Linked DNA regions of Homo sapiens: region 2 is linked to region 1. A link means that fine-mapping ties the variant in region 1 to the expression of a gene that starts in the linked region. Tissue or cell type: whole blood. Region 1 holds a variant in brackets; the other region holds the start of a gene. All regions are shown on one strand. Distances are between the middles of the regions.

Region 1 (2,752 bases):
CCGGCTCCGAGTCTCTTCTGCGCGTGGCCGTGGCGCGGAGGGGCGCGCACAAACTTTCTCAAGTCCGGTGGCGCCGCTGGGCCGCTCTTGGCTGCAAGCTGGGCTCCCCCGCCTCCTCCCGGGGCTTCGGTGGGGCACCCCTGGTGCCGTGGCCGCACGGCGCGGAGGGGCGGCCGACCTGAGCCCAGGTCGCTGACGTTGGCGGGGCCGGCCCTCCCCTCCCCCGCTCCGGCGGGGGCGCCGTGTGCGGCCAGGGTGGGGGTCCCTGGGAGGCCAGCGGGGTCCTTCCCCCCAGGTGGCGGCGGGGCGGGGGTCTGGGCGCAGACCGGGCGGCGGGGCCCCCGCAGCACCTCCACCTGCCGCGCGGGGCCCGCGTCAGTCTACGTGTTCGGGGGTGGGGAAAGCTGCTCTTCTTGGGCCTGGAGTGCAACTTGGACGTGCCCCAGGGTCGTGGATGAAAAATACATTACGGAAAAGTACCGAATTTGGATGAAAGGCGGGGAGGCCGAGGGGTTGCTGTCCCTTTAAGCCTGTCCCCGCCCGCGGGCCCTCGTGGCCTGTGGGAGGGCCGTGCTGAGGTGGCATCTGCGAAAGTTCCTCCATGCAGGATGGGTGCCGACTTCCAGAACTTGGTGAGAAGTGCGGAGCGGAGCCTGCCTTCTGCTCGCCAGTCGCCTGTGGTCTCTCCTAGATTTCGATCTTGTGATCTCTGAGTGGATCAGGATTTTATTTTCCCATTCTGAACTTTGGTTTGTGGTCTTGAGTAATTTTAGTTTTGGAAGAGGAGAAGTCTGGGTTTCAGCCGGAGGCTTTTTTGGTGCCCTCCATACCCGGTCCTGTCTGGTGCTTTAAAGCACTTGCGGGTCTCATTAACTGAGGCTGAAATGAAATTCTTCCTGGAGTATTACTGATAATTCTCTTCGAAGACTGTTGCCCCTTGAATATGTAGTTGGCAAAACTTATCACAAGGGAATCAACTTAATTACTTCCTCGTTTAAAAGCAAAAAAGTAGAACCCCTCATGTGAAGCCTTTTTTGTTGCTGTCAGAAACCTGTTAGACTTGTGCTAAACTTGTAAGCACCAGGTTTCCCACGCAACACACAGCTCTGTCAGGACTCCACGTTTTGCTCTACACGTATTAGGGCGGAAAGGGGTCTTGGTTCCTGCCCTCCTTCCTTTAGTTCTAGTTCTGTTTGCTGAAAGTTAAATTCTGAGATGTGACCTTTTTTGCTTTGGATGTTTGCACTCTGGGAAACAAAATTAAAAGTCCAGGTTCAGTATAGTTTGAGGTTTACATTAGGTGGACCTGGACACTGATTGATCCGAGCTTCCTATGGGAAAAGTAGTTGGGAGAGCCAGAATCACGAAGGGACTGGGGCCATATGGGAGGGACTGAAGGAGACAGGAGATAGGGCTCACCTACCAGAAGGAGCCTTGGAGGAGAGCGGACTTGTTCTCCATGGCCAGAAAGGGGAAAGAAGTTGTAGATTTTGTCATAACTTGAGGTGGAGCGTTTACAGCCATGCAGGGGTGGACCCGGGCCCTGAGAAGGCCA[T/C]GAATTTCCTGTCCCTGGTGGTATTAAGAAATGGGATTAGATTAATATCTGAGGTTCCTTTCAATCCTGATTTGGACAGTACTGTTAGATCCAGTGAGAATCTGAGATACCCGATGTTAGCCTCTGTTCTTGGGTATCTAGGCCTGCCCAAGGTATCCTGGGAACTTCAGATAGCAAGTGGAGTTGCCTGGCGCTGTCCTGGGGTTGCTGAAAGATCCACATGGAACAGGATTAAACCCTCGTGGGTGTTGTCTGTGAAGGCAGAGCCAGGAGCAGGGCGTAGCAGTGCGGGGTGGACATGGGGCTGTAGGGTCAGCTTCTTAGGTGCTGCTTTGTTGAACCAGAGGCAGGTGGACCCCTGGGCTGTGCCTCACTGGATTGGGAGCACAGAAGGAGAATGAGACTGACTTTTAAGAAAATCTCACCCAGAATTTCAGGTGGGGACAGGGTCTGCATTTACATGTGGGTCATCAAATGCTTGCTTAAAACGCAGTCTTCGAAAACAGGTTTTTGAGTTGTTTAGAAGAAAAACAAAATGTTGTTTGATGATACCAGAACCCTAGATGTTAAATGTGTCTCTAGTTGTGAACCATTCGTTACACGCTCTGACAAACTGCCACTTGGAATCTGGAGGCTAGGGACCCAGTATAGCCTGTCAAACCAGTCTGGAGTTTTCTGGAGGTCTGCCTTCTGCCTTACCTGGCTGCCTGAGGGTCTGTGCACGCCTGAGGAACATGAGAGGCTCTGCTCCAGGGTCTCCCTCAGACACAGGAGTAGGTTCCCTTATGTTGAGACTCCTTTCAGTATAGGGTCCGGCTGGACTTGGCTTCTGAAGGGTGTGTGAGTGGTCTCAGAAGAGACTGACACTGGGTGCACAGTGGGGATTGGCTCATCACAGCTCCGTGCTGGAGAGTCGGTGCGGGCTGACATGGACGGAACTGCATTTTGCAGACTTCTAGTGTGGCTGTCACTGGGCACTAGAGACTTGCCCAGAACCTAGCTTGATAAGGGGGTGGGTGTCTGGGTTTAAGAAGTGACATTGGAGCCCGGGACAACCTTGAGTGAGAGACCATGCCAGGTGAGAGTCAGCAAGCAAGCGTGGGAGGGCGGAGGGTGGATGCGGGAGACCAGAGGCAAGTGTCACTGGACACCTGTTGGGGCACCTTAGCCTGGAGTGCCCTGCCCTGTTTTGCTCCC
Region 2 (2,752 bases), 85 kb before region 1:
CGCCTGTTATAAGGCAGTCTACACAAGACCAACACGCTAACCCACTGCCACCTCAGGGTTATCAAACATTTACACAGTGGCCCAGACAAAAATATCCCACGGAAACAAAACAAAAACAAAAACCCAGAGAGAAAAACCACCCTTTAAAGATTTGGCCTTGGGTTTTAAATTTGCCCATCCCTTTTTAACACTATGTATTGACAATCTTTCCTTCAATGATGCCTTGTTCTAATTTCTGCTTTTCACATCCATTAATGGCACATGATAGGCCAGGGGTTGCTGCCATAGCGTAAACGGAAAAGGTGCCCGTAATTCGGGTGTGTAATGTACTGGGCCATATTCTGGTCCCCAGTTTTCATGGGTTTCCCAAAGGCTACCCACTGGCTTATGAGTATTTCTAGCCCTTAGTGGAGTAAAAATATTAACACCTAACACTTGATTCCCACCTTTAAGATACAATTTAAAGAAATGCTAAAAAGGCAAACGGCTCAAAATGCCTCCACCAGGCACCTCCAGGCCCATACCCTGCGGGTCCCTATGGCCCACTCTGGGGTGTCCTTCCGGGATGGGACACTCCCCGGCCCACGGCCCTGCCGGCCTCCACGGGGCACAACTCAACCCGCGAGTCCACGCGGGACACTCCCCGGTCTACAGCCCCACCGGCCTCCTCCACGCGGCACCCCTCAACCCGGGAGTCCACGCGGGCCACTCCCCGGCCCACCGCCCCGCCTGCCCCCACGCGGCAGGCTCCCTACAGACGGACGCTCCTCTAACCCGGACCCGCCTAGGAGCTCCAGCCGCCTCACGATGGCCTTCAGAGGCCGGGCGGGACCATCTCTGGTGGACCGCGGCCTCAGCGCCCCCCCCGCCTGGGCCTCTCGCCTCGGGCCTCGGGCTTCGCCGCCCACCCGGAGAGGCCCACCCCTGCCCCACGCGCCCAGGCCGCTTCACGTCCTCACCCTCGGCCTCTCGCTCGCCCGCCGCGTCCTCACCGGCCTCGCCCGGCCTCCGCAGTCGCAAGCAGCAGCCGCCAGACTCGCGTCGGCGTCGCCTGCTCCCAACTGCCCGCCGGCAGCCCCCGCGCAGCGCGCCCCGCCCTGACCCCGCCCCCGCGACGCGGACGCGCAGTCGATTGGCCTGCGGGGCGCCAGGGCGGAGCCTTCCCGTCCCGCGGCCTGAAAGCGCAAGATCGAGTTCTGATTGGTGAACGGACGGAGAAGGGGCGGGAGCAGGCAGGCAGCTGCGTAGGATATAAATCTGTGCAGCGCTCGGCTCGTTGGGCGGGGCGTCGGCTTGCTGAGCGAGGCAATGTCCTAGGCGAAGCCAAGGCTCGCTGGGCGGGGCTAGATCTTGGGCGGGGAGTCGGCTCGTTGGGTGGGGCTAGGTCCTGGGCGGGGAGTCGGCTCGCTGGGCGGGGCTAGGTCCTGGGCGGGGAGTCGGCTCGCTGGGCGGGGCTAGGTCCTGGGCGGGGAGTCGGCTCGCTGGGCGGGGCTAGGTCCTGGGCGGGGAGTCGGCTCGCTGGGCGGGGCTAGGTCCTGGGCGGGGAGTCGGCTCGCTGGGCGGGGCTAGGTCCTGGGCGGGGAGTCGGCTCGCTGGGCGGGGCTAGGTCCTGGGCGGGGAGTCGGCTCGCTGGGCGGGGCTAGGTCCTGGGCGGGGAGTCGGCTCGCTGGGCGGGGCTAGGTCCTGGGCGGGGAGTCGGCTCGCTGGGCGGGGCTAGGTCCTGGGCGGGGAGTCGGCTCGCTGGGCGGGGCTAGGTCTTGGGCGAGGTCTAGGCTCGCTGGGCGCGGATAGGTGCTGGGCGAGGCCTAGGCTTGCTGGGCGCGGATAGGTGCTGGGCGAGGCCTAGGCTTGCTGGGCGCGGATAGGTGCTGGGCGAGGCCTGGCTCGCTGGGCGGGGATAGGTCTTGGCCCGGGCCTTGCCGGCTGTCCTTGCACCCTTTGGCTCAGTCCCTGGCTGCCAGCCTCCTCCTTCCTCCAACGCATTGCATCCCTCGTGGGACTACAGGGACCGAAGGGGATCATCGAAGGATCGCGCGAGGCTGTGCTAAGGCTGAGACAGGCTGCTCCGTGGTGGCGGCCAGGACGGCCTTCCTCTGGCCTAGGGACCCCCACCCGAGAATGGAAGACTGACTTGCTGTGGCACACTTCCCTTCTCTTGAGAAGTTCATTGAACTCCTATGTGTTCTTCAAGACCCTACCCATCGTGCTCTCCTAGCCCGGCCCTGTCACCCACTGTCACCATGTGGCTGTTGAGGGAATAATTAACTTCAGGAAACACCCGGGCACTTAAGAGACTCCTCCTATGGTGCTGTGGATTCCAGAGTGAAACCTGACCCTTCGTTTCCCAGAAGCCCAGACAGGAGAAATGCTGGCTCAGGGGAACCTCCATTTCTCCTGAGACAACTATGGGGTCTGAGACCCAGGCACACCAAGACTGGGCTCAGCTGTGCGGGATGCTCCCCTCATGTGCCACCCACCTCTGGGGCTTTTCCTTTAACCAACCCCCAATGACACCACCAGGCCCAGAGTGGTGCACACACCCCAGAACAGAGGATCCCTGCCTGCAGACGGGCAGGGCCGGGTGGGGATAGTGCAGGTGAGAGCCTGGCCAGAGGGTGGTACTGACCCCTGGTAGGATGCAGGGTGTGTGCTGGTGACCTGAGGCTGGCAGTCTGGAGGGAAGGCAGCAGGCGTGGCAGCTGTCAGCTGAGGAACTAGAGAGAGCAAGTTTCAGTATCCAGGGGTCTGTCTA

The links. PIP is the estimated chance that this variant, and not a neighbour inherited with it, causes the effect.
Region 2: FARP2 starts here. The variant in region 1 is fine-mapped to the expression of FARP2 in whole blood (INTERVAL, PIP above 0.99).

The regions. Positions count from the first base shown.
Region 1 is chr2:241,269,797-241,272,548 of GRCh38, reverse strand. The region is part of intron 1 of HDLBP (high density lipoprotein binding protein); the gene reads left to right. HDLBP-AS1 (HDLBP antisense RNA 1) reads right to left here and starts at 385. Exons shown (of 2, transcript NR_168372.1): 1 at 1-385. RefSeq lists a silencer at 42-351 and an enhancer at 492-571. The variant T/C (reference allele first, on the strand shown) is at 1,556.
Region 2 is chr2:241,354,596-241,357,347 of GRCh38, reverse strand. It overlaps FARP2 (FERM, ARH/RhoGEF and pleckstrin domain protein 2), which reads right to left and starts at 1,063. Exons shown (of 27, transcript NM_014808.4): 1 at 960-1,063. RefSeq lists a silencer at 726-1,275.